Regions from separate parts of the Homo sapiens genome. Here region 1 is linked to region 2. Evidence: fine-mapped expression QTL. A gene starts in region 2. The other region holds a variant in brackets. All regions are shown on one strand. Distances are from middle to middle. Region 1 holds the start of NCKIPSD (NCK interacting protein with SH3 domain). Region 2 holds the start of IP6K2 (inositol hexakisphosphate kinase 2).

Region 1 (14,548 bases), 35 kb after region 2:
AAAAGAAAAAAAAGAAAGTTTCTGGATTTTATTTATTTATTTATTTATTTATTTATTTATTTTTTGAGTCTTTCTTGTTCTGTTGCCCAGGCTCTGGAGTGCAGTGGCACGATCTTCTAGGCTCACTGCAACCTCTGCCTCCCAGGTTCAAGTGATTCTCCTGCCTCAGCCTCCCGAGCACACCACCACGCCTGGCTAATTTTTGTATTTTTAGTAGAGACAGGGTTTCACCCTGTTGGCCAGGCTGGTCTCCAACTCCTGATCTCAAGTGATCTGCCCATCTCGGCCTCCCAAAGTGCTGGGATTACAGGCATGAGCCACCATGCCCGGCCTTCTGAATTCTGATAAGACATACTGATTTATTGGTCCTTATCTCTTTATAGCCATAAGTTAGAAGAAGAATTTGAGTGGCTAAAGAAATCTGAAGTCTTGTACTACACTGTAGAGAAGAAGGGGAATATAAGTTCCCAGCTTAAACACTATAACCCTTGGAGCATGAAATGTCACCAGCAACAGTTACAGAGAATGAAGGAGAATGCAAAGCATCGGAACCAGTACAGTATCCTTTGTTCACGGGCATCTCTGCATTTGAGGGTAAGAGGAGAGGAAATGAGGAAGTCCCTTGGAGCTTGGAGAGAGAAGTTAGGTTTTTATAGTCATGGTTGAGTTTCTCCTACCTGGGTTATTCCAGGACCTGTATGATAATTATGGGCAAATAATCACTTCCCTCAGGGCAGCTACTGGCCTAGGAGTGCAGATGATGAGGAGTGGGGTATAATGGGTTTCTGGGAGGTGAGGGGTGCCTCATGAAGGGGCCAGCTTGCATCAGGTGGGCTTTAGCCTAGGTAACCTAGAGGAAGAGGGCAAGGAGCTGCTCCCTGTTTTCAGACTTTTCAGAAGTCTGAAAACATTGCTCACCTGCCAAGGGCTGGGGTGTTTGGGTGAGGAGACTGACCTGATCAGTCCTGGTTCACCAGACCACCACTGGGACATGAGCTGTGCATAAGGAAATATTTGTTTTCTTTTCTCTTTTCTTTTTTTCCTCTCTCTCTCTTTTTTTTCTTTTTTTTTTTTTTTTGAGACAGAGTCTTGCTCGTCCCCCAGGCTAGAGTGCAGTGGTGTGATCTCAGCTCACTGCAACCTCCGTCTCCCAGGTTCAAGCGATTCTCATGCCTCAGCCACCCAAGTAGTTGGGATTACAGGCATCCGCTACCACGCCTGGCTCATTTTTGTATTTTTAGTGGAGACAGGGTTTCACCATGTTGGCCAGGCTGATCCAAACTCCTGACCTCAGGTGATCCACCTGCTTTGGCCTCCCAAAGTGCTGGGATAACTGGCATGAACCACCACGCCCAGCCCTCTTCCTCCCTGCCCCTCCCCTCCCCTCCCCTTTGTAGAGGTAAGGTCTCACTGTGTTGCCCAGGCTGGTCTCAAACTCCGGGGCTCAAGTGATCCTCCTGCCTCAGCCTCCCAAAATGTTGGGATAACAGGCGTGAGCCACCACGCCTAGCCTTTTATCTATTTTTTGGTCTCTTAAAAATGTAAAAACCATTCCTAGCTTATAGGCCATAAACAGCAAGCACTGGGCCATAGTTTACCAGTTTCTGCTGTTGGGAGCACTGATTCCTTGAATGGGAAATAATGAGTCAATGGTCTGTGCACCAGAGACACTCATTATTTCTGGTTATTGTTTCTAGACCTTTTTAGTGCACACAGCTGAGAAGCAGACGTTTAAAGAGCAAAGTATTTTCATGAGTTTATACTGATATTTCCAGTTCACATTTAAGGCTACAGGATTTACTGAACTTTCTTGATGTTCTACTTGTAATTGAGGACTTTGTTTTTGGACCCTAGTCCTACACTTAGCTAAGAGTTCAGAAGATGGCATGTGTGTCTCCCAGGCAGGAAGAGCCTAGGCCTCTGTTGAGTCCGGGTGCAGGCTGCTTCCACGTCAGTTCCCTGACAAGAAGTAAAGGTGTCTCTTAGCTTTATAGTCAGCTCTGGACTCCCTGTGTCGGGGATGGCAGGACTAATGGAGTCTCCTGTGGGTTCAGGCTTCTCTGGGTCACTGCATCAAGGCACTGTACCTTGAGAGTGCCAAGGACCCATGCAGTAGCACTTCCTTTTGGGGGTATTATTCTTAACTACTCAGAATTTATCTTACTGGAAAACCTGACTTCCCGCTACGAGGTGCCTTGTGTCCTTGACCTCAAGATGGGCACACGACAACATGGTGATGATGCTTCAGAGGAGAAGGCAGCCAACCAGATCCGAAAATGTCAGCAGAGCACATCTGCAGTCATTGGTGTGCGTGTGTGTGGCATGCAGGTGAGGGGGATGCTAGGGCTGGCTAGGGCATCCAGTGGCTGTCACTTCCCCACCCTGGTATAGTCCTGTTTGCTCAAAAGATTCCAGGCCAGGTGCAGTGGCTCACACCTGTAATCCCAGCACTTTGGGGGTCAAGGTGGGTGGATCACCTGAGGTCAGGAGTTAGAGACCAGCCCAGGCAACATGGCGAAACCCTGTCTCTGCTAAAAATACAAAAATTGGCTGGGCGTGGTGGTGCACGGCTGTAATACCAGCTACTTGGGAGGCTGAGGCATGAAAACAGCTTGAACCCAGGAGGCAGAGGTTGCAGTGAGCTGAGATCACGCCATTGCACTCCAGCCTGGGCGACGGCGAGACTGTCTCAAAATAAAAAGGTTCCAGATTTGACCCTACATGAGTCTGTTGCTTTTTGGTTAAAAAAGAAAGCATGCATGCCTGCATGATCCTCTCTCAGATTGGTCTGGTTGGCTGAGTCCAGAATCTGTGGATAGTAGTAGGGAGGAAGGCAAAAGGGTTTGGTCCTCTCCAGTGACCCAGATGTTGAGGTGGGGTGCTGGGGCACAATGACCAAACCCAGGTTGGATGGCTGCATCCCAGGTGGGGGCTGATCAGAGAGCATAGTGGACAGTGGCTCATGTGCAACTGGTGTACTTTATCTGATCTGGGCTGTCACATGCCGCCACCACCACACCACCCCACCCCCGCCCGGGGTCCAGGGTTTGAGATGGCCCTCAGCCCCTGACTTGCTGGTCTCTCTCCTACAGGTGTACCAAGCAGGCAGTGGGCAGCTCATGTTCATGAACAAGTACCATGGACGGAAGCTATCGGTGCAGGGCTTCAAGGAGGCACTTTTCCAGTTCTTCCACAATGGGCGGTACCTGCGCCGTGAACTCCTGGGCCCTGTGCTCAAGAAGCTGACTGAGCTCAAGGCAGTGTTGGAGCGACAGGAGTCCTACCGCTTCTACTCAAGCTCCCTGCTGGTCATTTATGATGGCAAGGAGCGGCCCGAAGTGGTCCTGGACTCAGATGCTGAGGATTTGGAGGACCTGTCAGAGGAATCAGCTGATGAGTCTGCTGGTGCCTATGCCTACAAACCCATCGGCGCCAGCTCTGTAGATGTGCGCATGATCGACTTTGCACACACCACCTGCAGGCTGTATGGCGAGGACACCGTGGTGCATGAGGGCCAGGATGCTGGCTATATCTTCGGGCTCCAGAGCCTGATAGACATTGTCACAGAGATAAGTGAGGAGAGTGGGGAGTGAGCTTGCTAGCTGCTCCAGTACTTGAGAGCGACTCTGTGTCCCAGGCACAGCTGTGCTGCGTCAGGGAGGAAGCCAGTATGGCCAGGTGGTGGCTCCTGCAGCCTGGAGCTGATGTGCAGTGGCCTCTGTGAGCCCCAGCCTGAGCCAGTCCCAGCTGTGCTTGGAGTCTTTATTTATTTTAACTATTT[C/A]TTCAACATTCCACATTTGATGATGATACCTCTTTCTTCCCTGAGTGTATATGTTCTAATACAAATCTTTTTGTTTATTGTATATAGTGCTCCTGTCATTCTTTCCAAGAGCAGGCAGTCCCCCTCCCAAGCCTCACCACATGCTGTGACCACCTCCCTGGCTCAGTATTCTCCTGGCTGCCACCCCCACTCCATGGATCCTAAAGTCAGCACAACCTCTTGGCATGGTGTACAGTCTCCAACCCAGCATCCTGAAGGTTACCCAGAAAGGATCCCCAAGTTACATACCTTCTGGCGTCTGTGCTGGCTAAGTGTCTCAGCACCTCTATCCAAAAACCACATGACGCTTGACACAGGTCTTCTCATGGGCCGTATGCAGCTTAAGCCAATTAGATAGCAGGTGATCCAAACCTTGGGTCCAGCTTTTAATCCCTCCTATGCCACTGGCAGCAGCTAATTGGCTGGCTATTGTGATAGATGTCCTGGAAGCAATACTAGGGTCTCTAGCCTCGGGTCTGGTCCATTGGCAGCCATGGACTGTGTTGTAAAGGGGCCCAGGTGATGGAGGGTACCATAAAAAGGCGTGTTTGGGCAGGTAGGGTGGTCCTCTTGGCCACACCACCTGTCACCACTCCTGCCCAGCCCTAGTCCCCATTGCAATTTCACCAGTCTTATTCTTCAGGCAGTCCCAGACAGCACAGACCCCGAGATTCTGCCCTGCCCCAGGAGGGCTTCTGGGAGGAGGAAGGGCCAAGAGAGGTCTTGAACTGAAGAGCCAGACCTGGTGCAGAGAAGGCAGGGTCTGGATGTCAGTTTCTAGCAGTTCTACCCCTCACCTGAACCTCACACTAGGCCTATGTACTTTAGGCCTAAAAATAGGCAACTGGGTCAGACAGACACCCATAATCCCAACACTGGGAGGACTGCTTGAGTCCGGGAATTTGAGACTAGCCAGAGCAACATAGCAAGACCTTGTCTCTACTAAAAAAAAAAAAAAAAAAAAAAAAAAAAAAAGCTGAGTGTGGTGGTGCATGCCTGTAGTCCCAGAGACAGTAGGCTTGAGCCTGGAAGATCAAGGCTGCAATGAGCTTGATCATCCCACTGCACTCCAGCCTGGACGACAGAGCAAGACCCTGTCTCAAAAAATAAATACAGATAAAAATAGAAAACTTGCACACACTGGCCTGTACACGCCTCCTGCTTCCTGGGCTCGGGCTTCCTGTGGAGCGTAGCTGGACCATTCTCAGCCACAGTCTCTCCAGGACCCTGAGGGCCTCTTCCCTGGGTCTTCCAGGCACTCTTATTACACGGATTTCATATATCTGGAGATCTGGGCTGACTGGAAAGCTGGGTGGATCAAATAGGCTCTTAAGGCCACCGTGGTACCCCACTCCCTCTTTCAGCCCTCCTCTATGCTCTCAGAAAGGGGCATCGCAAATCTTAAGTCCTATAAAGACAATAAAACACAGCAAGATGATAGCGATTGATGGGGGTGGGAGCTTGACGGACAAATACTATAGGAGAGGGAAGGGAAAATTGTCCCAGGTAGAGGGAACAGAATATGCAAAGGCCCAATATAGAGAAAACCAGCCATAGCTGAAGAGAGAGGAGGAGTAGGGGTGGGGAGCAAAGATGGGAGGGCTTTAGACAGGGAATAGCCCCGCCTGGTTTCTGCTTTTGTGGCCCCCTTCTCCCCACACTTGCTCCCCACTGGCCACCACCGGCACTCGGTGAAGACAGGTGGTGAGGCCTAGACACACCGAGAGCCGGGCCCCGCGGGGGCTTCCAAGTGTCGGATCAGCAAGATCATCCTTTCGAGGTCGCCGTCCTTGCAATTAGTAGATGGGACCCACTGCCCCAGGGCGGTAGGGGCGCACCCGCTACGAGCGGAGCGCGCTTTCACCGGGAGGTAGGACGGGACGCAGCGCTCGGACTTAAGCGGGGAAAGGGAGCAGAGGGCTGGACGGGTGAAACTGAGGCCGGGGTGAGGAGTGAGGGTGCGGTGTCCGGGGATGAGGGGCCTGGAGCCGGGAGGGACCAGAGGAGACAGCGAGCTGTCGACCCCAGCCCCGCCGCACCTCTTGGGGCCGCGCGGGGGCGCTGCTCTCCGATGCGTGGAACGATACAGCCCGGGGCGGGGCTTCGGCGGGCGGGCGCGCGCGCGCCTGCGTAGTGTGTCACGGGGCGGGACAACCGCGGCGCGGCTCGGCGCTCCCGGCCTGGCGTTGTGGCGCCGCAGCCCTTGCCACCTTCCCTGCACCTGCCCTGCCCGGCCTCATGTACCGCGCGCTGTACGCGTTCCGCTCGGCGGAGCCCAACGCGCTGGCGTTCGCCGCGGGCGAGACCTTCCTGGTGCTAGAGCGAAGCAGCGCGCACTGGTGGCTGGCCGCGCGGGCGCGCAGTGGTGAGACGGGCTACGTGCCGCCAGCCTACCTGCGCCGCCTGCAGGTGAGTGCGCCCCTTCCCGCCCGGCCTCCGCGCCCCTGGGGCAGGACCCCTTCACAGCCCCGCGGAACCGACCCAGGGACCCCACCCTCTCCGGGACCCGAGGCCAGGACCTCTATCAGACAGGGAGTTTGAGAACCTGACCCTGAGACCCCCGGACCCACGGGGACTGAGACCCCAAGTGTCAGCATCACCCACAAAAGACCAGGCCCTTGACAGACCAACTCCCGATCGACCAAAAGCCTAACTCTGGGACTGAGACTCCTCAGGACCCCAGACCCTTCAGTATCGAGTCCGCCATCTGAATGGCGACCCTGAGCCCCACCGAATCCTGGCCAATTATTCAAATCCCTGAGACCCCAGATCCTTAATATGCCCCTTCTCTGGATTCCTAGGACCCCACAACCAACCTCCCTCCCTCCCTCCCTCCCTCCCTCCCTCCCTCCCTTCCTTCTTCCCCCAACCCCGCGCCTTGCCCCCCGTTGGAGCCACCACTGAGACCTGGACCACCTTGGACACCACCTGTTTCCCTAGCCATTCTCCAGGTCCTCAACCCCCCAACTTGGACCCTAGAGCCATAGACACCTCCATCCCCTATGTAACACCCAAGCTTTGGTACTTCAGTGTCTTTCACTAGCCTGTGTTCAGCCACCCTCTAAGCTCTTCTTAAGTCTCTACCAACCTTATTTGAACCAAGGACCCATGCCCCTGCTGACACTGTCTGCTCCACTCCCCAACCCTGACTTCTCAAACTTTCTTGCTTTGAAAATGGGTTCCATCCCTACTTGTTCCCAGCCTGGAGTGGGGACTGCTCACATTGTGATGAAGTGAGTTCTTATAGCTTCTCCTGGTCTGATCGTGGCCCCATTTCCTTCCAGTGGAAGCTGCAGTCCCAGTTCCTGTTTCCCTAAGAGTAGCCCTGCTGCGGGGGTTGGGGTGCGTATCTCCAGCTGGTCTATTCTGACCACAGGGGGAAGAAGGGCCCAGAGCTGCCGGGCCTGTGCCAGACACCCCCGCCCCGTCCTAGTCCTTATCCTTTAGGAAACATCCTGTCCCAGCCCAGTTCAGGACAGAAATAACGGGATAAATTTGGAAGTGTCATCTGGTCTTACCAGGAAGGATGGGCCCTGGGGGCCTAGGGGCTTCCTCATAGACCCTTGGCGTGATCCCATCTAGGAGTGCCAGGGGTGGGAGTGGGGGCCGTGGACACCATGGCTGCTGTGTGTCAGACCCAACCTTTTTGGGAATGGGGTCTCATTGAAGGCCTCTGAGGAAAAGTCCTGTCTCTTCCCCTACTGGGCATAGGTCAAGGGCCTGTGAGTCCCCTGCCGCCAGCCAGGACCAGTGGGGCAAGGTGTTTGGGGAGGGCAGAGAGGCTACCATCTTCTCTGTCACTGTCTGTTTCTTTCTGCGTGTCTCTTTCTGTCTGGATTGCTGCGACTCTGTGCCTCTCTGCCTGTGTCGTTCCGACTCCACATGTGTGTGTTTTTGTTTCTTCCTCCGGCTCCCCCCACACTCTGGCTTTGGCTCTGTTTCTTTCTGCGTTGTTTCCCTCTGTCTGCCTCTCCGTTCCTCTCTGAGCTCCTCTCTTTCCCCATTCCTTTCTTTCTCTCTCTCTCTGTGTGTGTGTGTGTGTGTGTGTGTGTGTGTGTGTGTGTGTCTTCATGTCTTTCTATCCCCCTGTCTCCTCTCCCTGCACTCTGGCACACCTCATACCACCTGGAGGGCTTTGCTGACCTCTGTGCCCACCTGTCTGTGCCCATCAGGGAAGCTTCTCAAACCCATGGTGGAATGAGTTCATCTCAGCTCCGGGACTCCTATGTAGCCTGATGGACTACGTGTGCCAGGGCCAGGGGAGGGCTGGGGGTAGCTGGTTTGATAGCTGCTACCCTACACTCCCCATGTCAGATAGGCAGAGTAGACTGGATCCCTGGAATGTTGGGGATGGCAGTACAGAGCCTGGAACAGGGGCTAGGCCCCTCTCTCATGTTTATCCTTTGCCACAAACACAGAACTGCTTCCCAGGGTGGGTTTGGAAGCTTACTGAGACATCTTGTGGGGATGAGGGCCAGCAGCAGGGTTGGGGAGGGCAAGTCCCTTTGACCCATTCTCAGCTCCCAGGGCTTACAGAGGGCCCTTACAAGGACAGGGCTGTTCTGGGGTATGACCTTGGTTTTGTGAAAGATCAGCAAGATGCAGAGTGATGTATTAAGGATTCCAGATACTGGAGACTTCCTGTTTGGCATCTCAACCTGGGCTCTGAGCCAAGACCAGGGATAGACGAGGTATGCGCTCCTGGCTGCAAGCTGGGAGCCCCTGGGCTATGTTTTTGCTTTAGACCTCTGATTTTCAGAAACATCTTAGCCAAGAGCCTTGCTGTGGGGTAAAATCCTGATCAGGACCTAATATGTAATGTGGCAGCATGGGGGTCACCCTGTGCCTCAGCTCCCTGAGTGATACAGTTTGAGAACCCCATTCCATATTCTGGTTCAACTTTTTGTGCTATGTCTAGCATTCCAGGCTTTCGCTATATTGGTTCTCTGCCCTGGGTTCTATCTCGGGCTGGGCCTGGGCTGAGCACCTCCGTTTGGCCTTCAGGTCTAACTGCTGTCCCCTGCCCCCCCCAGGGCCTGGAGCAGGATGTCCTCCAGGCCATTGACCGGGCCATCGAGGCTGTACACAACACAGCCATGCGGGATGGTGGCAAGTACAGCCTGGAACAGCGTGGAGTCCTCCAGTGAGTGTTGAGGGGAGTGAAGTGGGACCTCCCGGTGAGCATGGTGGGGTGGGGTTCTTCAATGAGTGTCATGGGGCAGGTGGGCCTGGGAAATGCGAGGGTTGGCAAGGGTGGTGGGGGAATGGCACCTCCCAGTGAGCAAGGTGGGGTCGGGTCCTTCAGTGAGCACCAGGGGTGTGCAGAGCGCAGGACTGAGGATAGTATGGGGTACTGTAGGCTGGGGTGGAGCATGGAGGAGATGGGGATGTCTGAGGGGCCTGGGCTATGGGGTCCCAGCATCCCACAGGGGCATATGAGGACTTTGAGCTGTGAGATGCAACCCCCCAATAGTCTTCCTGTCCTTCCATCAGGAAGCTGATCCACCACCGGAAAGAGACCCTGTCACGCAGAGGCCCTTCAGCCTCCAGTGTTGCAGTTATGACCTCATCAACCAGTGACCACCACTTGGATGCTGCTGCAGCCAGGCAGCCCAATGGGGTGTGTCGAGCTGGGTTCGAGCGGCAGCACAGCCTACCCAGTTCTGAGCATCTTGGGGCAGATGGAGGCCTCTACCAGGTGTGTGGGGAGGACATCGTGGAGAAGGGAGGTGGGTGGAACTTGAGGCTTCATCCAGAGGCTCAAGGGGTCCACTCAGGAGTGATGCGGCCCAGAGCCATAGTCCTGCCCACAGCCAGGGCTCAGGGCCCGAGCCTCGCTGACGCTCTAGATGTCAGTCTGTCCTCCAAGATCCTACTTCCATCTTCCAGATCCCACTTCCATCTTCCCAGATCCCACCACAGCCTCGCCGAGCAGCACCCACCACACCGCCCCCACCAGTGAAGCGCCGAGACCGCGAGGCCCTGATGGCCTCTGGGAGTGGTAAGAAGGCAGGGTTAGGGGAATTCAGGTGGAGGCACCCTATGCTTGGAATGGTTGTGCTGCCTGTGTCAGGGAAATGGAGGCTCTAAGCTGGGGAAGAGGACAGGACTCCCATTTTGGGGCAATTAGGGGCTCTGGGCTTTGTGAGGAGGCAGTGCCTAGCAGAGAAACTAGGCCCTGTGTTAGGGGACAGGGGATCTGGGCTGTGAAGGGTATGGTTTTCCAGGGGGCTGCCCTGGCCCAGCTTCTACTCACTGCTCGCAGGTGGCCACAACACCATGCCCTCCGGGGGTAACTCTGTGTCCAGCGGCTCCTCAGTCAGCAGCACCTCCCTGGACACGCTCTATACCAGCTCCAGCCCATCTGAACCAGGCTCCAGCTGCTCACCCACACCCCCACCTGTGCCCCGCCGAGGCACCCACACCACCGTGTCCCAAGTCCAGCCCCCTCCCTCCAAGGCATCAGCACCTGAACCCCCTGCAGAAGAAGAAGTGGCAACTGGTACAACCTCAGCCTCTGATGACCTGGAAGCCCTGGGTACACTGAGCCTGGGGACCACAGAGGAGAAGGCAGCAGCTGAGGCGGCTGTGCCCAGGACCATTGGGGCCGAGCTGATGGAGCTGGTGCGGAGAAACACTGGCCTGAGCCACGAATTATGCCGGGTGGCCATCGGCATCATAGTGGGTCACATCCAGGCCTCGGTGCCGGCCAGCTCACCAGTCATGGAGCAGGTCCTCCTCTCACTCGTAGAGGGCAAGGTGAGGGTGGGCGGCACAGCAGGGCCACCCTGCTACCCACCCTGTTCCCACCGTCACACACTTGTCCAGCCTGTACATTACAGGTATTTCTCAAGCTCTGGCTCTGAGCTCTTACTGTGCTGGGCACTGGGGACGTTGAGCTGATTTCTGAAGCAGAAAGGAAGGACAAGCATTCCAGGCAGATGCGCAGCCTGGACAAGGGCCACAAGGCAGGACTGAGCCTGGCTTGTGGGAGGAAGTGGAACAAGGCCTGCAGGACTGGAACACAGGGAGTGAGGGAGTGGGTGCTGTAGGAGGAGGTGAGACCTGGGGCAGGTGACAGATAAGACGACATGCGGGTGGCCAAGAGTTCTGTCTGGCTGCAGGGAAGGAATGGACACGGCGTGGGTGAGGGTAGTGCCTTGCTGACCTTGGCAGTAAGAGACATGGGTGCTGGGAGAGCTGGGATGGAGTCCTAGGTGCTGACATGGATGAGAGGGAGTGAGGTGTGTGGGCATCATGGGATGGGTGGGATCCTTGGCACTCATGAGCAGGATGGGGGCAGTGAGCCCAGCATACATGATGGGGGTCAGACAGACCAAAGGTCCCTCTTTAGTGCTCCATGGTTCCTGTTACACTTCTGGTTTGGGTGTTGGGGAGTGGGCCAATGGGCTTGGCTGTGCTGGGCACAACAGCTAGTGCCTGGTCAGCAGGGTTCAAGGAAAATGTGGCAAGTTGGTAGATGACAGGCCTGTGCCATTTTGTGTGGAATGGGAGAGTGAGGTCTCAGAGTCACATTCTGGCAGTGACAGAGTTCATGGCCCTCCTAGTTGGGGGTGTTTATCCAGGTCTGGGATGAGAGGCGAGCTGTTGAAAACCCCCTACAGATGAGTCTCCCGTTGACTCCTGTCCTGGGAGGTCATCAAGACTGGAGTTGAGCCTCCTGTCCAGTGTGGGCCAGGAGGGACTTGAGTTCATGGAGTAAAAGTCCACAGATGGACTCTCCAGGCCTTGGAGGCTCCCTGGAGATGGTGAGGGCAGGGAGTGTGCTGAGTCATGCCTTGCCCTCTCCCTCTAGGACCTCAGCATGGCCCTGCCCTCAGGGCAGGTCTGCCACGACCAGCAGAGGCTGGAGGTGATCTTTGCAGACCTGGCTCGCCGGAAGGACGACGCCCAGCAGCGCAGTTGGGCACTATATGAGGATGAGGGTGTCATCCGCTGCTACCTAGAGGAGCTGCTGCATATTCTGGTAAGGGTGGGGTCCCACACACATACCCCACATGGGGAACAGTGGCCCCCACCCTGTAGCATCCCTCACAGTGCTAGGAGTCTCCCCTACACATATGTGCTCAGCCCTCTCTTGTGCGGCTGCACAGCTCCGCTCATGGTGGCTGATGCTCTCACTTCCTCATTTCTGTAGACTGATGCAGACCCTGAAGTTTGCAAGAAAATGTGCAAGAGAAACGAGTTCGAGTCTGTCCTGGCCTTGGTGGCCTATTACCAAATGGTATGTGCAGGATGGAGGGGAGGGGTAATGGAGAGACCTAGATAGTGGGGGAGTTCCAGGCACTGAGCACGCAGGGTTCCCTGCCAGGAACACCGAGCATCACTGCGGCTGCTGCTCCTCAAGTGCTTTGGCGCCATGTGCAGCCTGGATGCAGCCATCATCTCCACGCTTGTGTCATCCGTGCTGCCTGTAGAGCTGGCGAGGGACATGCAGACAGACACGCAGGGTGAGGCTGGAGGGCGGGGTAGGAGGGAACTTCCTGCTATCTGGAGGGTGTTCCTGCCATCTGCTGGGGTTTCCTGCCATCTTTGGGGACTCTGACTGCCTGCCTTGTCCCCCCCAGACCACCAGAAACTCTGTTACTCTGCCCTCATCCTGGCCATGGTCTTCTCCATGGGAGAGGCAGTGCCCTATGCACACTATGGTAAGAATGCAGTAACCGACCAGCTGATCACAGGTCCTAAGCCAGGGCCCATTGCCCGAGGGCCTGGGACCTGCTGACTACACAGCCTAGCAGGGAGAGGCTATCCCCAAGGCTCACAGAAAGCCAGGAAGGGTGGGTGGTGCGGGGGTCGGAGGGGAATGGGGCTGCAGACTTCTGTGCGCCCCTCTCCCAGAGCACCTGGGCACGCCTTTCGCCCAGTTCCTACTGAACATCGTCGAGGATGGGCTGCCCTTGGACACCACAGAGCAGCTGCCGGACCTCTGCGTGAACCTGCTTCTGGCTCTCAACCTGCACCTGCCAGGTGGGGTGGGGCCTGGCTGGGCGGTGGCTGAGCACATGGTGGCTCTCAGGCTCAGCACCCTGTCTATACCCATGTCCTTCCTTAGCTGCTGACCAGAATGTCATCATGGCTGCCCTGAGCAAACACGCCAATGTCAAGATCTTCTCCGAGAAGCTGTTGTTGCTCCTGAACAGAGGGGGTGAGGGCCCGGGAATCTGCGCGGGTACCACTTCCATGCCCTGTGACTCCATGACCCCTGCAATGACTCCCGTAACCCCCTGGGGTGACTCTGGGATCCCCACAAGGTCCACCCTGACCGCTATGACCCCTGCCTCCTAGATGACCCTGTGCGCATCTTCAAACATGAGCCACAGCCACCACACTCTGTCCTCAAGTTCCTGCAGGACGTGTTTGGCAGCCCGGCCACAGCTGCCATCTTCTACCACACAGACATGATGGCTCTCATTGACATCACTGTGCGGCACATCGCAGACCTGTCACCAGGAGACAAGGTGCCTGGAGGTGGCTGCAGCAGCGGGGGTCACTGTGTGGAAACTGAAACAAAATGGTGGGGGGCATGACATTGAGTGGAGATGAGGGGGCAAGGCCACTGCTGGAGCCAGGTAAGTGTAGGAGGCCATGATAGGTGCACCAAGACCCAAAGGAGCCAGCCATGAGGTGATCTGGAGGTGGTGGGGCTGGAGGAGGCTGGAGAGGAGGGAGTGGAGGGAGATGAGGCATGGAGGATGGAGTTTACACAAAGCCTCGGAGGCTGCTGCAAGAGGTTGTGATCTCAGGACCGGGGAATGTGATGTGATTAACATCCCACATGGAATCAACTGCATGCCAGCAGAGTGGAAGCCAGCCAGGGAGGAAGCAGCCTCAGTGGTCCAGGTGGCATGGATGGGGTGGGGATGGGATAGGTCGTGGCAGTGGCAGTGGCGAGAAGAGGCCAGCTGTGGAGTGTTTAGTAAGTGGATCTGGCAGGGCTTGCCACTTGATTTATCTTGAGCAGCTAGATGGATGAAGTGCTGATTTTTGAAGTTGGGGAGGCTGGGAGAACTTCTTGGGGGAAAATAGAGAGTCGTGTTTTGAATGTGTCAAGAATGAGGAGATATCTGCTAGACACCCAGGTACCGAGGGCATCAGGGAGGCAGTGGGGAATGAGTTGAGACTAGAGAGACATTTCGGAGTGGTCTATGCAGAGATACGATGGGAAGCCTGTGACAATGTGATTGCCTCAGAAATGAGATAGATAGGCAGGTCAGCGGGAAGTTCGGGCTGCAGCCCTGGGCACAGCTGAAACAACTAGGGAGAAACCCAGGAAGAGAACCAAGAAAGCAGGAGCCCAAAGCCACATGTTTAGAGGAAGACGATCAGCCATCTCTATACCGTTAGGAGCCTGAGCGAGACTGGGGTTGGCCATTGGATTCACCACACAGAGGTCAGTGGTGCCTGACAAGCAGTGTCAGTGGGGTGCAAGGAGGAGAGTCTGAATGAAAGTTTGAGAGAGCTTGAAGTTATTGGGGAGTAGAAATGAGGGGAGGGTTGGAAGCAGTAAATGGAGACAACTCTTGTGAATTTTCTATTAAGGGGAAGAGAAAAATGGAAGGGAGGTTGCTGGAGAGAGATGACATGGGGATAGGGAGAGTGTTTTTTTGGGGGTTTTTTGTTGTTGTTGTTTGTTTGTTTGTTTGTCTCCCACTGTTGCCAAGGCTGGAGTGTAGTGGCACGATCGTGGCTCACTGTAACCTCCGC
Region 2 (14,309 bases):
GGTGACCAATCATGCACCCCTTATGATCCCATTAAAACCTAATCACCCTTACCCCACTCAATGCCAATATCCCATCTCACAGCAGGCTTTAAAAAAGTTAAAGCCTGTTATCACTCACCTGCTACAGCATGGGCTTCTAAAGCCTATAAACTCTCCTTACAATTCCCCCATTTTACCTGTCCAAAAACCAGACAAGTCTTACAGGTTAGCTCAGGATCTGCACCTTATCAACAAAATTGTTTTGCCTATCCACGCTGTGGTGCCCAACCCATACATTCTTTTGTCCTCAATACCTTCCTCCACAACGCACTATTCCGTTCTTGATCTTAGAAACACTTTTTCACTATTCCCCTGCACCCCTCGTCCCAGGCCCTCTTTGCTTTTACCTGGACTGACCCTGACACCCATCAGCCTCAGCAACTTACCTGGGCTATACTGCCGCAAGGCTTCAGGGACAGCCCCCATTACTTCAGTCAAGCCCAAATTTCTTCCTCACCCAATTACCTATCTTGGCATAATTTTTCATAAAAACACACATGGTGTTTATGTCTGGTGATTATGTCTGGCTAATCTCCCAAACCCCAACCCCTTCTATAAAACAACAACTTTTTTCCTTTCTGGGCATGGTTGGATACTTTCACCTTTGGATACGTGGTTTTGCCATCCTAACAAAACCATTATATAAACTCACAAAGAAAAACCTAGCTGACCCCATAGATCCTAAATCCTTTCCCCACTCCTGTTTCCATTCCTTAAAGACAGCTCTAGAGACTGCTCCCACACTAGCTCTGCCTGACCCATCCCAACCCTTTTCATTACACACAGCTGAAGTGCAGGGCTGTGCAGTCAAAATTCTTACACAAGGACTGGGACTGCACCCTGTGGGCTTTTTGTCCAAACAAATTGACCTTACTATTTTAAGCTGGCCATCATGCCTCTGTGCGGTGGCTGCCACCACCCTAATAGTTTTACAGGCCCTCAAATTCACAAACTATGGTCAACTCACTCTCTACAGTTCTCATAACTTCCAAAATCTATTTTCTTCCTCACACCTGACGCATATACTTTCTGCTCCCTGGCTCCTTCAGCTATACTCACTCTTTGTTGAGTCTCCCACAATTACCATTGTTCCTGGTCTGGACTTCAATCTGGCCTCCCACATTATTCCGGATACCACTCCGACCCCCATGACTGTATCTCTCTGATCCACCTGACATTCACTCCATTTACCCATATTTCCTTCTTTCCTGTTCCTCACCCTGATCATACTCGGTTTATTGATGGCAGTTCCACCAGGCCTAATTGCCACTCACCAGCAAAGGCAGGCTATGCTATAGTATCTTCCACATCTATCATTGAGGCTACCACTCTGCCCAGCTCCACTACCTCTCAGCAATCTGAACTCATTGCCTTAACTCGGGCCCTCACTCTTGCAAAAGGACTACACGTCAATATTTATACTGACTCTAAATATGCCTTCCATATCCTGCACCACCATTGCTGTTATATGGGCTGAAAGAGGTTTCCTCACTACGCAAGGGTCCTCCATCATTAACGCCTCTTTAATAAAAACTCTTCTCAAGGCTGCTTTACTTCCAAAGAGTCATTCACTGCAAGGGCCATCAAAAGGCATCAGATCCCATCGCTCAAGGCAACAGTTATGCTGATAAGACAGCTAAACAAGCAGCTAGCATTCTAACTTCTGTCCTTCGTGGCCAGTTTTTCTTCCTCTTATCAGTCACTCCCACCTACTCTCCCACTAAAACTTCCACCTGTCAGTCTCTTCCCACACAAGGCAAGTGGTTCTTAGACCAAGAAGAATATCTCCTTCCAGCCTCACAGGCCCATTCTATTCTGTCATCATTTCATAACCTCTTTAATGTAGGTTACAAGCCGCTAGCCCATCTCTTTTGTTTTTGTTTTTGTTTTTGAGACAGAGTCTCGCTCTGTTGGCTAGGCTGGAGTGCAGTGACACGATCTTGGCTCACTGCAAGCTCCGCCTCCCGGGTTCACGCCATTCTCCCGCCTCTGCCTCCCCAGTAGCTGGGAGTACAGGCACCCACCACCACGCTCAGCTAATTTTTTTGTGTTTTTAGTAGAGATGGGGTTTCACCATGTTAGCCAGGACGGTCTCAATCTCCTGACCTTGTGATCTGCCCACCTCGGCCTCCCAAAGTGCTGGGATTACAGGTGTGAGCCACCACGCCCGGCCCTAGCCCGTCTCTTAAAACCTCTTATTTTGTTTCCATTGTGGAAATCTATCCTCAAAAAAGTCACTTCTCAGTGTTCTATCTCCTGTTCTACTACTCCTCAGGGATTGTTCAGGCCCCCTCCCTTCCCTACACATCAAGCTCAGGGATTTGCCCCTGCCCAGGACTGGCAAATTGACTTACTCACATGCCCTGAGTCAAAAAACTAAAATACCTCTTGGTCTGGGTAGACACTTTCACTGGATGGGTAGAGGCCTTTCCCACAGGGTCTGAAAAGGCCACCGCGGTCATTTCTTCCCTTCTGTCAGACATAATTCCTCAGTTTGGCCTTTCCATCTCTATACAGTCCGATAACAGACTGGCCTTTATTAGTCATATCACCCAAGCAGTTTCTCAGACTCTTGATATTCAGCAAAACCTTCACACCCCTTACCGTCCTCAATCTTCAGGAAAGGTAAAATGGACTAATGGTATTTTTTTTTTTTTTGAGACAGAGTCTTGTTCTGTCTCCCAGGCTGGAGTGCAGTGGCCCAGTCTCTGCTCACTGCAAGCTCTGCCTCCCAGGTTCACACCATTCTCCTGCCTCAGCCTCCCATGTAGCTGGGACTACAGGTGCCCGCCACCACACCTGGCTAATTTTTTGTATTTTTTTTAGTAGAGACAGGGTTTCACCATGTTAGCCAGGATGGTCTTGATCTCCTGACCTCATGATCCGCCCGCCTCGGCCTCCCAAAGTGCTGGGATTACAGGTGTGAGCCACCGCACCTGGCCAGACTAATGGTATTTTAAAGACACACCTCACTAAGCTCATCCTTCAACTTAAAAAGGACTGGACAGTATTTTTACCTGTTGCCCTTCTCAGAATTAGAGCCTGTTCTCGAGATGCTACAGGGCACAGTCCATTTAAACTTTTATATGGACGTACTTTCTTGTTCAGCCCCAGCCTCGTCCCAGACACCAGCCCTCTAGGTGACTATCTTCCAGTCCTCAAGCAGGCTAGACAGGAAATTCGCCAGGCTGCTAATCTTCTCTTGCCTACTCCAGATTCCCAGACATATAAAGACACCCTAGCTGGACGATCAGTTCTTATTAAAAATCTGACCCCTCAAACTCTACAACCTCGATGGACTGGACCCTACTTAGTCATCTATAGCACCCCAACTGCCATCCGCCTGCAGGACCCTCCCCATTGGGTTCACCATTCCAGAATAAAGCTGTGTCTGTCAGCCAGCCAGCCTGATCTCTCTTCTTCCTCCTGGAAGTCGGAAGTACTCTCCCCTACTTCCCTTAAACTCACTCGCATTTCTGAAAAACAGTAATAACCCTTATGAGCCTAATACATCCCTTCATTCTTTTAAGTCTATTCATCCTTACCCTACTTTTTGCAACAGGGCTATACGCAGTCACCCCCACTACTTGGACTATGCCCCAAAAACTTGTCATCCCTACTATCTTCTGTGTAGTCATACTCCTATTCACCATTCTCAACTACTCATAAATGCCCTGCCCTTGTTTACACTGCCAGTTTACACTTTTCCTCCAAACCATCATAACTGATATCTCCTGGTTTTATCTCAAACTGCCACCCTTAAATCTCTCTTGAAGTAAATAAAAGATCTTCAGTGGCAAGGTACACTCCAATACTTTCACCCTGATGAAGTCCTATTCTCTCCATAGTTTTGTCGTTGCTATATTGCTTACTTTGATGACCATTCCTTGCCTTCTGATGAGTTTCAACGTCTTTTCATGTTGTGAGGTTCTGTCCATTGCCTCTTAATACCCTTTTCTCCTTCTTTGCTAACAAACCTCAATTTTGTCCAGGAGGGTAAGTGTCCAGTCCCAAGTAATAGACAAATCCTGACCCATTCTCTGACTTCTCAGCCTCCTTGTGAGCCTGAGAAGCCTGAGTCACTGGTCAATGAACAATAAATGGAAGTCTGCTGGGGCTTCTGGGAAAGCATTTGCTTACCTGATAAAGGGGATAGATGTGGCTGGTGCCAGCCTACCTCCTACTTTGAATACTGATATGATGTTTGGAAAGGATGCAGCTATCTTTCAATGCAAGGGCCATAAGCCTGAGGACAGAATCCAACACATCAAGGATGATGGTGGAAGTATCCAAATAGCCTGAGTTATATGCAACAGAAACAAATGGTGTGTCCACCAAAAGACATGTAAAAGAACATTTGGCCACGCACGGTGGCTCACGCCTGTAATCCCACCACTTTGGGAGGCTGAGGTGGGTGGATCACCTGAGGTCAGGAGTATGAGACCAGCCTAACCAACATGGTGAAACCCTGTCTCTACATAAAATACAAAAATTAGTGGTGGTGCACGCCTGTAGTCCCAGCTACTCAGGAGGCTGAGGCAGGAGAATCGGTTGAACTTGGGAAGAGGAGGTTGCAGTGAGCCGAGATCATGCCACTGCACTCCAGCCTGGGCGACAGAGAAGACTCTGTCTCAAAAACAAAAACAAAAACAAAAACAAAAACAATATTTTATATTTTTGTTCTTAAATATTTGAAATTAAATATTTTTCTCATTTTTATTCATTTCTAGGGGCCAATTTGTAGCAAATGCTATTATTTTTAATGTATTTTTCTTGTATTTATCACCTTAACATTTTATCTTATTAATTGTAATAATTTTCAAGAAAGTCCTTTGGATTTTCTAGATTTGTAACCACGGCATTAACTAAAGAGATAGTTTAATGTCTTTCTCTCCAATATTTATAACATGCCATTTTCTTTTCTTATTATATTCGTTAGGATTCTTTTTTTCCCTCCAAAGCCAAATGCTTTAGAAATATTTGCTAGAATTCTAAGGCAATGTGTTATAATAGTGTTGCCATCATCCCTGTCTAGTTCCTGATTTAAAAAAATGTTTTGCATATCTGGTGTACCTGAACTTATTATTATATCGTTTATGTATAGTTTATATCTGTTTCTTTTTTCTTTTCTTTTTTTTGGAGACAGAGTCTTGCTTTGTCACCTAGGAGTGCAGTGGTGTGATCTCAGCTCACTGCAACCTCCACCTCCTGGGTTCAAGTAATTCTCGTGCCTCAGCCACCCAAGTAGCTAGGACTATAGGCATGCACCACCACGCTCGGCTAATTTTGTATTTTTGGTAGAGATGGGCTTTCACCATGTTGGCCAGGCTTGTCTTGAACTCCTGGTCTCAAGTGATCTGCCCACCTTGGCCTCTCAAAATGGTGGGATTACAGGTGTGAGCCACAGTGCCTGGCCATGTCTGTTTCATAAATTGTCTGTTTCTATGTTAGACAGTGGCCCTGTTTATTTTGCTCAATGCCTATCACCTTAAATCCTACCTTTTCTCATGTCATGTACTCCTGTTCTCTTCTAGTTTGTGCTGGCCTGATCTCTCTGCCCACTCCTTTATTTTTCAGCCTTTTCTGTTTGTGTGGTCTCAAATATCCTATAAATAGCATGTGGCTGGGTTTTGTCTCTCTAATCCAGTCTCTATGCCTTTAAAGGGAGTTCAGGATTTATTTACTGTGATAAAGATGTTTAGTTTTGCTCATTCCATAAATTCCTTTTTTTTTTTTAAAGACACAGGATCTCGCTATGTTGCCCAGGCTGGACTTCAGGTCCTGGGCTCAAGTGATCCTCCTGCCTCAGCCTCCAGAGTAGCTGGGATTAAAGGTGACAGCCATAGTGCCCAGCCCCATAATTTAGGTTTATTATTATTATTATTATTATTGTTATTATTTTGAGATGGAGTCTCGCTCTGTTGCCCAGGCTGGAGTGCAGTGGCACGATCTCAGCTCACTGCAAGCTCTGCCTCCCAGGTTCACACCATTCTCCTGCCTCAGCCTCCTGAATAGCTGGGACTACAGGCGCCCGCCACCACGCCCAGCTAATTTTTTTGTATTTTTTTAGTAGAGACCGGGTTTCACCGTGTTAGCCAGGATGGTCTCGATCTCCTGACCTCGTGATCCGACCGCCTCGGCCTCCCAAAGTGTTGGGCTCACAGGCGTGTGCAACCACACCTGGCCTAGGTTTATTATTTTTTACTTTGTAGTTTTATATTTTTATTTAGTTGACCTATATGAAACTACTGTTTTTGTAGGTTTAAACAGTTAAATATTAGCAGTTTCACAGGGTCAACCTAATATTTTCCTCTTTCTCTTTGCTGTCTTTGATTAAACTGTCATTCATTTAATGTTTCCCCTTGGTAATTTGGACATTCTACTATTTTTTCCTCATTCCATTTATGGTTATTGTTCCTCTCCAGGCATGACAACTGTCCTTTAGCTGGGTCTAGGTGGGCAGATAGTGCACCTGTGTTACGGGTAAGAGTTTGAGGCCAGCTGGCCCTTCTTCCTTGGTATGTAATTTGTTTTATCTATCTAGAAGCTTGTATAATGGTCTCTTTCTCCTTGGAGTTTAAGAATTTTACTGTAGTCTTTCTCTTTCATCCTGCTTGGGAATGTGGCCAACCCCTCCCATCTACACACAGCTTTTTCTTTTTTCTTTTCTCTTTCTTTTTTTTTTTTGAGAGGGAGTCTTGCTCTGTCACCCAGGCTGTAGTGCAGTAGCGTGATCTTGGCTCACTGCAACCTCTATCTCCTGGGTTCAAGTGATTCTCCTGTCTCAGCTTCCGGAATAGCTGGGACTACAGGTGCACTGAGACTACACCACGCTACACCTGGGACTACAGGTGTAGCTGGGACTACACCACGCCCGGCTGATTTTTGTATTTTTTAGTAGAGACAGGGTTTCATCATGGTGGCCGGGCTGGTTTCAAACTCCTAACCTCAAGTGATCTGCCTGCCTCAGCCTCCCAAAGTGCTGGGATTACAAGTGTGAGCCACTGCACCCGGCTGACACAGAGTTTTCTTCATGTCATGAAAGTTTTCTTCTGTAGTTTGACTAGCTGGTGCCTCCATTTCAGCTGTCCCTTTTTCTCCTTTTAGGACTCCTGCTGTCTGCACATCAGAATTCTTGGACTTGCCCCCCAGATCTGTGGTCTATTCCTTCATCGTTTTCAGCTCTGTGCATCTTTCCCTTAAGTTCTGAGCTATTTCTTCCATTAGACCCAAGTGGCTTTTTCATATTCCCTCAAAATATCAAACTTCTTCTTTCCTCGGGGTCTTTGTACTTGCTGTGCTTTTGTCAGAAATGGCTTCCTCTAGATCTTTCCATGCTCAGCCAGTGCCTTTGGGCTGATCTTAGCTCAGATGTTCCCTTCTCAGATCTACCTCTCCTGCTGCCTTAGACATAAACACCATACTCTGCACTTTTGCTTGGTTCCTTTTCTCCATTGTAGTCACTCTGCCTATAATTATGTTATTTGTTCTTTTACTGTCTGTTGCCTCTCACCCACCTCCGGACAAATAAATCATTTGAATTCTTGCTGTGTTTATTCACGCTGCATCCCTGGTGTCTAATCTAAGTCAGACCTTGATAAGCACTTGTGAAAGGAATGGAAGAGTGAATTAATGCTAGGGCGGCCCCAAGGTGGTAACTGCTATGAAGCGGCCGGGTACGGTGCCTAATGCCTGTTATCCCAGCACTTTGGGAGGTCAAGGAGTGTGTATCACTTGAGGCCAAGAGTTTGAGACCAGCCTGGCCTGGATAACATGGTGAAACCCCGTCTCTATTGAAGAATAGAAAAATTAGCCGGGTGTGGTGGCACACGCCTGTAATCCCAGCTACTTGGGAGGCTGAGGCATGAGAATCGCTTCAACCCTGGAAGCGGAGGTTGCAATGTCATAGCACTGCAGCCTGGGTGACAGAGCAAGATTATGTCTCAAAAAAAAAAAATTCTGAGAAGGTGGTAACTGCTATGGAAACATATAGAGCCAGGATGAGGGGATAAAGGTGGTACTGAGTGCTGGGGGCAGAGTGGGGCAGGTTACAGTCTGAAATGAGGGGCTCTGAGAGCTGGGGTGCAGCTCTTTGGAAATCTGTGCAATCCAGGCATGGGAACAACCATAACTCATACACTGTGCAGGAGAGTGCATGGGGTGTGATGTGTGAGGAACACTGGGAGATTGAGCAGCAAGGCCAAAAGCTGGCCGGGGAGATACAGTCGGGGGGGTGATAGGGAATTATGAAGGTCCTGATGTCTCTGGTTTTCCCTTGGGGAGGAAGTACTCCAGGGTTCTGAGCAGGGAATGGGAGGATCTGACTCATGTATTCACAGGCTGATGTGTGCAGAACAGACTGAAGGCATCAGGGGCAGCAAGAGGAGACCAGGAGGCAGCTGTGACATTGCACTCAAGAGAAATGGTGGCAGTTTGGACTCAGTGAAAGGTATGGAGGTGGCAAGAAGTGATTTCATTCTGGGTAGATGATGCTGATGGAGACAGCAGACCTTCCTGGTGCACTGAATATAGATGGGAAAGAGAGTAGTCAAGGGGTACTTTGAGGTGTTTGACTTGAGCAATAAGAAGGGCTGAGATGCTATCACTCAATTTGGGGAAAGTGGGGTGAAGTAGGTTTGGCGGATGAGCCAGTGTTAGGGTAGCACAAGTTGCGTTTGAGATGCCAGCAACTGGAAGTCAGAGTGCAGATGTCTAGTTGACAGTGGGACTAGTGAATCTGCCACTCAGGAAGGGTCTGGACTGGACAAACACTTTTAGGAGTGATTGACATGTAGGTGGCATTTGAAGTCATGAGCCTGGATAAGATTTTGGAAGAGTGAGTGTAGACAAAGAGAAAACACACAGATGAGAAACTGGTGAGACTGGAGGAAACCAGGAGGACATGGAGCCCTGGAAACCACATGCTAAGGTGAGAGGAGCTGCTCACAGAAGTCTCTCCTATCCACTGTTATAAGGTCAGGGATATTTATTTATTTTCCTTTTTTGTTCACTGCTGTATTTCCAATACCGAGTGTAAGTGCTTAATAAATACTTGTTGAATTAAAAAGTGTATGAGTGAATTTACACCTTTGCAAATGCCCAGTACACAGGGCTGCAACATTGTTCTCCTTTACAGAAAGAGCAGAGATCAGGTAGGAGGCTCTGCCCATTCTCAGTGGCACTAACCCTCTCCTTTGCCTTTCACAGCTATGCTGACATTCACTCAGGTGAGAGCCCTTCTGTCCAACACAGGCCCAAGACAAATGAGCCTCAGACAAGCCCTGTGGTGTGGTGCTTGGTGGGAGCTGGGTTGGGCACTGGGTCATCCACCAGTCCCCAGAAAACTCTATGGCCACTTCTCTGTCCACCCTTCCATATCTAATAATCTGTCTGTCTGTATCTATAACCATTTCTTTGTCCACCGTCTACAGGCACTCTTTTGTCCCTCTTTCCGTCTATTCACATCCAGTCTTCTGTCCATCTGCTAGAGTGACCAACTTCCCAGTTTGTAGTGGACTGTCTCTGTGTTAGCATTGAAATTCCTGCATCCTGCGAAATCGCTCACTACTGAACAAACCAAGACTGTTGGTCAATCCATCTGTTTCCCAGGTATCCTGCTGTCCATCGGCCCGCAGCTAGTCTATCCACCCAACCGCCCGTCAGACCTCCGGCCCACCCTCCCAGACGGAGGACAATGCTCCGCCCTCTCTGGCCCCGCCCCCAGTCACCGCCTTTTCCGGAAGCTGCTGCAGCGAATCCTGGCACCCTAGCAACAGCGCCTTTCAGGCTGTCCAGTCCGCGTGCGCAGCTCCTAGGACGAGCCAATAGTGAGGGGCACCGGGAGCGAGGTGCAGGGGGCGGGGCTCGGCCTGGCCGCAGCCATTTTGGTGCGAGAGAAACAATAGGACGGAAACGCCGAGGAACCCGGCTGAGGCGGCAGGTAAAGCTCGCGTCCTATGGCCCTAGTGCCCGAGGAGCTTTGAGGGAGATTTTTTCAGGCTACTGGGAAACGGGATCTCTGATCATTGGAGTCTCCCAGGTTATTTGGGAAAGACTTCTTCCGTGGTCATTGTGGGGGAAATCTCCCGGGGTCCCTGTGGATTCGATTTCCCTGGGTCATTTGGGAGGAGGGTTTTTCTTCTGATCATTGGGGGAGGGATTTCCGTGGTTTTGGGGGTCCAGCATCCTCCCCGGTCATTGGAGGGGGTCTCCCGGGTTTGGGGGAGGGCAGGATCTTTCCTGGTCATTGAGATCTCCCCGGGTCTTGGGAAGCGCAAGATCTACGGTGTCATTGAGGGGTCTCCCCAGGTCATTGGCGGCCACGATCTCCCCAGATATTTGGCGGGTGGAGGGGTCTTCCCGGATCTTTGGATAGGGAGTCAGCTCAGCGCCTCAGGTACTGTTACCTGGGGTCGGCAGATGTGCAGCCATTTTGAGTGTTGAATGCCATTTGGGCCCGTCAGATGGTGTTCGATGAGGGAATCTACACACTTAACCTTATTATAGAAAAAATGCCTTTAAATGGATAAGAGGACACCTTTATAGTGATATTTCCACTCTTTACGTTTGATTACAGACCGCTTTTGTCTTTTGCATCCTAATGGCTTATTTCATTTTAGGATTGTATTCGTTCTCATATATCAACTAAGCTACACTAGCAGAAAAGTGAGTGAAAATAAAATGTAGAAACCAGTAAAATCCAGTGCTCTTAAATACCAGGGAAAACAGAACTAGTCACTGCTTGGAATTAAACATTTCCGTAGCAGAATGTACACAGAACAAAAAATCATCTTGAATAGTTTTAAGAAAAAGTACTGGCACTTTGGAACGTGGTAACAAAAATGTTGTAGATCATCGGTTCTATGATATTTTTAATAGAGGACCATGATTACAGTAATTTTGTTGAATTCTAGTGTTTAAAATGTTTGCTGTATTTGCAGTTGTAGCCAGGTAATATTTTAAGTGAACTAAGATGCTTATTTATATAGGTTGTTGCTGTGGGGTTTGTATAATTGCATCGTGTAACTTGGGTGTTAAGTATTTAAAGAGAAGCTTCAGGGTGTTGTTTTAACTTTAGCCACTATCAGAGTTAGAAAGGGCCAAATGAATACTTTATCACATTTGACATAATAGGCAAATTGATGGCCTAGTAACTTTTTTTTTTTTTGAGAAAAAGTTAAACTGTTAACTGTCATTTAAAATTTTTTTTCTATTTTCTGTGGTCTTGTCTGACATTGTCATTTCGATAGATTTACCTGCTTTGTGACTTTAGAATTCACAGGCATTGTTAGAAATCAAATGGAGAATCACTTGAGCCCAGCAGTTCAAGATCAACCTGGGCAACATAGCAACACCCTGTCTCTACAAAAAAAAAAAAAAAAAGAGAGAGAGAGAAAGAAATGAAATGGATAAGAACACTGACTAGAGTTAATACAATTGTAGAAACTAGCTTTTTGTTTGTTTGGTTTGTTTTTTATGCAGGGCCTGGGTAGGGAGGGAGCAAGGCAGGGACCTGGGAGATCTAGAAATCAGTGTAACAGATATAATAGATTTCTTTTGTGTTTCAAAGCTTCCTAGGTGACAGACAGGTACACTGTATGCTAGCCCTGTATCTGTCTGAGCAGTGGAATGTGCCAGGAAAGAAGGAGCAACCACTGACTGATGAACCTTTGCCAGTCTCCCTTCCAAGAGGGATGCCAGAGCCTTCTGTAAGCTCCTGAGATGTCACTGGTATCTAGGCAACAGGGATGAGCCTGAACCTCCCTGAGGCCAGCTTACTGAGGTGAAAATTTTCCATTGTTTGGCTCATAAAGAGGATGCACTGGGGAAGAATTTTCCCTTTAAGTGAAGTTATTTCACCTAGTGGGATAATCTTGGGTAACAAATTGAACACACTCTTATACATTAGAAAGTAAGCAGATGATTATTCTCATGTTATTACATTTTAAAGCATGTTTTTGTTTTTTTAAATTATGTTTTTGCCTATTTGTGTACCATATAATAAAAGTAATAAGAAGTAGTTGTGTTTTACAGTATATTCTGGTGGCAAGGAAATGTCCTTCTCTCCAAAAATTGAGTTTAGAGCCCACTTCAGGATTTGGAGAAGTCAATTTGCCGAGATGATGCACAGTTGATTTGGGTCTGTCATCCATAACCAGCTTCAGTAGTTACTAATTCCTGGCCAATCTTGTTTCATCTACACTGTGCCTATCCCCATCACTGCCCTACTTTTTTTTTTTTTTTTTTTTTGAGACGGAGTCTCTCTCTGTCGCCCAGGCTGAAGTGCAGTGGTGCGATCTCGGCTCACTGCAAGCTCCGCCTTCCGGGTTCACGCCATTCTCCTGCCTCAGCCTGCCTCAGCCTCCGCGCCTGGCCTGCCCTACCTTTTAAAGAAAGAAAGGGCCAGGGCCAGGCTTGGTGGCTCATGCATGTAATCCCAGCACTTTGGGAGGCCAAGGCGGTTGGATCATGAGGTCAGGAGTTCAAGACCAGCCTGGCCAACCTGGTGAAACCCCGTCTCTACTAAAAATACAAAAACTAGCCAGCCTCTGTGGCAGGTGCCTGGAATCCCAGCTACTCAGGAGGCTGAAGCAAGAGAATCGTTTGAACCCAGGGGGTGGAGATTGCAGTGAGCCAAAATCACACCACTGCACTCCCGCCTGGGCGACAGAGTGAGACTCCATCTCAAAAAAACACACACACACACACACAAAAAAAAGGAAAAAGAAAGGGCCGAGCGTGGTGGCTCACGCCAGTAACACCAACGCTTCGGGAGGCCGAGGTGGGCAGATCACTTGAGGTCAGGAGTTTGAGACCAGTCTGGCCAACATGGTGAAACCCTGTCTCTACTAAAAATACAAAAATTAGCTGGGTGTGGTGGCAGGATCCTCTGTCTCAAAAAAACAAAACTAAACAAATTTCTGGGATATGCTCCCTTTAAGATTCAGGGGTTTTTTGTTTTGTTTTGTTTTGTTTTTAATGAGACGGAGTCTCGCTCTGTCACCCAGGCTGGAGTGCAGTGGCCAGATCTCAGCTCACTACAACCTTCGCCTCTCAGGTTCAACCGATTCTCCTGCCTCAGCCTCCCTAGTAGCTGGGACTACAGGCATGTGCCACCGCACCTGGCTAATTTTTGTATTTTTAGTAGAGACGGGGTTTCACCATGTTGGCCAGGCTGGCCTCGAACTCCTGACCTTAGGTGATCCACCCACCTCGGCCTCCCAAAGTGTTGGGATTACAGGCGTGAGCCACTGCACCGCACCTGGCCTTTTTCTTTCTTTTTTGTATTACTATTTTTTTTTTTTTTTTGAAAAAATGTCACTCTGTCACCCAGGCTGGAGTGCAGTGGTGTGATCTCGGCTCACTGCAACCTCAGCCTCCCGAGTAGCTGGGATTACAGGCGCGTGGCACCACGCCCGGCTAATTAATGTTGTTTGCTTTCTCTATGTATCCACCTATCTTACTTGAGACACTCCTATGTGTTTTCGAAATTGAGTGTCTAATCCCAAACCTAAGGAAGAGTAAAACTTCTTTTAATGGAATAAAACATGTTAGTTACCAAGAAGCAGACATCTGGCTCTAGTGTTGCTTTTGCACTTAGTTTGTGAGAATGTGCCCAGTTGGAACCTGGGCTAGATCTCCTAAGTCTGGGTTTGTGGAAGGCTGCCACGTTGCCTGCTCTGGCCCTGGGGTGCTGTGGCCCAAGTTCCCCAGGCCATATTACTCTACCTTAAAACCCTACCTGTTAGAAGAGCCCACCTGTTATGGCTCCTTGCCTTGAACCTTGTCTTGCTCTTTTAGTTGGGGCTGCTTCGGGGCCAACAGGCCTTCGTAACTGAAGCTGCACACTCAAATGAGATGCCCCATGGGCCGTGTGAGCTTGTCTCAGCTTTCATGGGGATTGCAAAAATCTCGCATCCCCCTTCAGTATTTGTTTTATAAGAATAGTAGGTTATTTTTGCTTTGCAAGTATGAAACTAACATTGGATATGGCTTTTTGGTATAACTACTCACCTGCCCATTCAGATTTTTATGTGCCCTAGTGTCTTAGATTTATATATTTATTATTATTATTGTTGTTTTTGGAGACGGAGTCTCACTCTGTTGCCCAGGTTGGAGTGCAGTGGCGCGATCTCGGCTCATTGCAACCTCTGCCTCCTGGGTTTAAGCGATTGTCTTGCCTCAGCCTCCTAAGTAGCTGGGCCTACAGGCATCTGCCACCACGCCTGGGTAATTGTATTTTTGTAGTGATGGGTTTTCACCATGTTGTC

The links. PIP is the estimated chance that this variant, and not a neighbour inherited with it, causes the effect.
Region 1: its variant is fine-mapped to the expression of IP6K2 in whole blood (TOPMed, PIP above 0.99).

The regions. Positions count from the first base shown.
Region 1 is chr3:48,677,318-48,691,865 of GRCh38, reverse strand. It overlaps NCKIPSD (NCK interacting protein with SH3 domain), which reads left to right and starts at 5,951. Exons shown (of 13, transcript NM_016453.4): 1 at 5,951-6,229; 2 at 8,854-8,963; 3 at 9,314-9,518; 4 at 9,710-9,821; 5 at 10,086-10,579; 6 at 11,637-11,807; 7 at 11,979-12,065; 8 at 12,153-12,291; 9 at 12,409-12,489; 10 at 12,683-12,811; 11 at 12,897-12,989; 12 at 13,130-13,302. The coding sequence starts at 6,059. It overlaps IP6K2 (inositol hexakisphosphate kinase 2), which reads left to right. Exons shown (of 6, transcript NM_016291.4): 4 at 384-559; 5 at 2,153-2,328; 6 at 3,093-3,863. The coding sequence ends at 3,593. RefSeq lists enhancers at 3,060-3,560, 3,561-4,061, 5,444-5,513, 5,108-5,839 and silencers at 6,036-6,330, 5,724-6,443. The variant C/A (reference allele first, on the strand shown) is at 3,782.
Region 2 is chr3:48,712,827-48,727,135 of GRCh38, reverse strand. IP6K2 (inositol hexakisphosphate kinase 2) reads left to right here and starts at 9,915. Exons shown (of 6, transcript NM_016291.4): 1 at 9,915-9,979. RefSeq lists an enhancer at 13,937-14,309.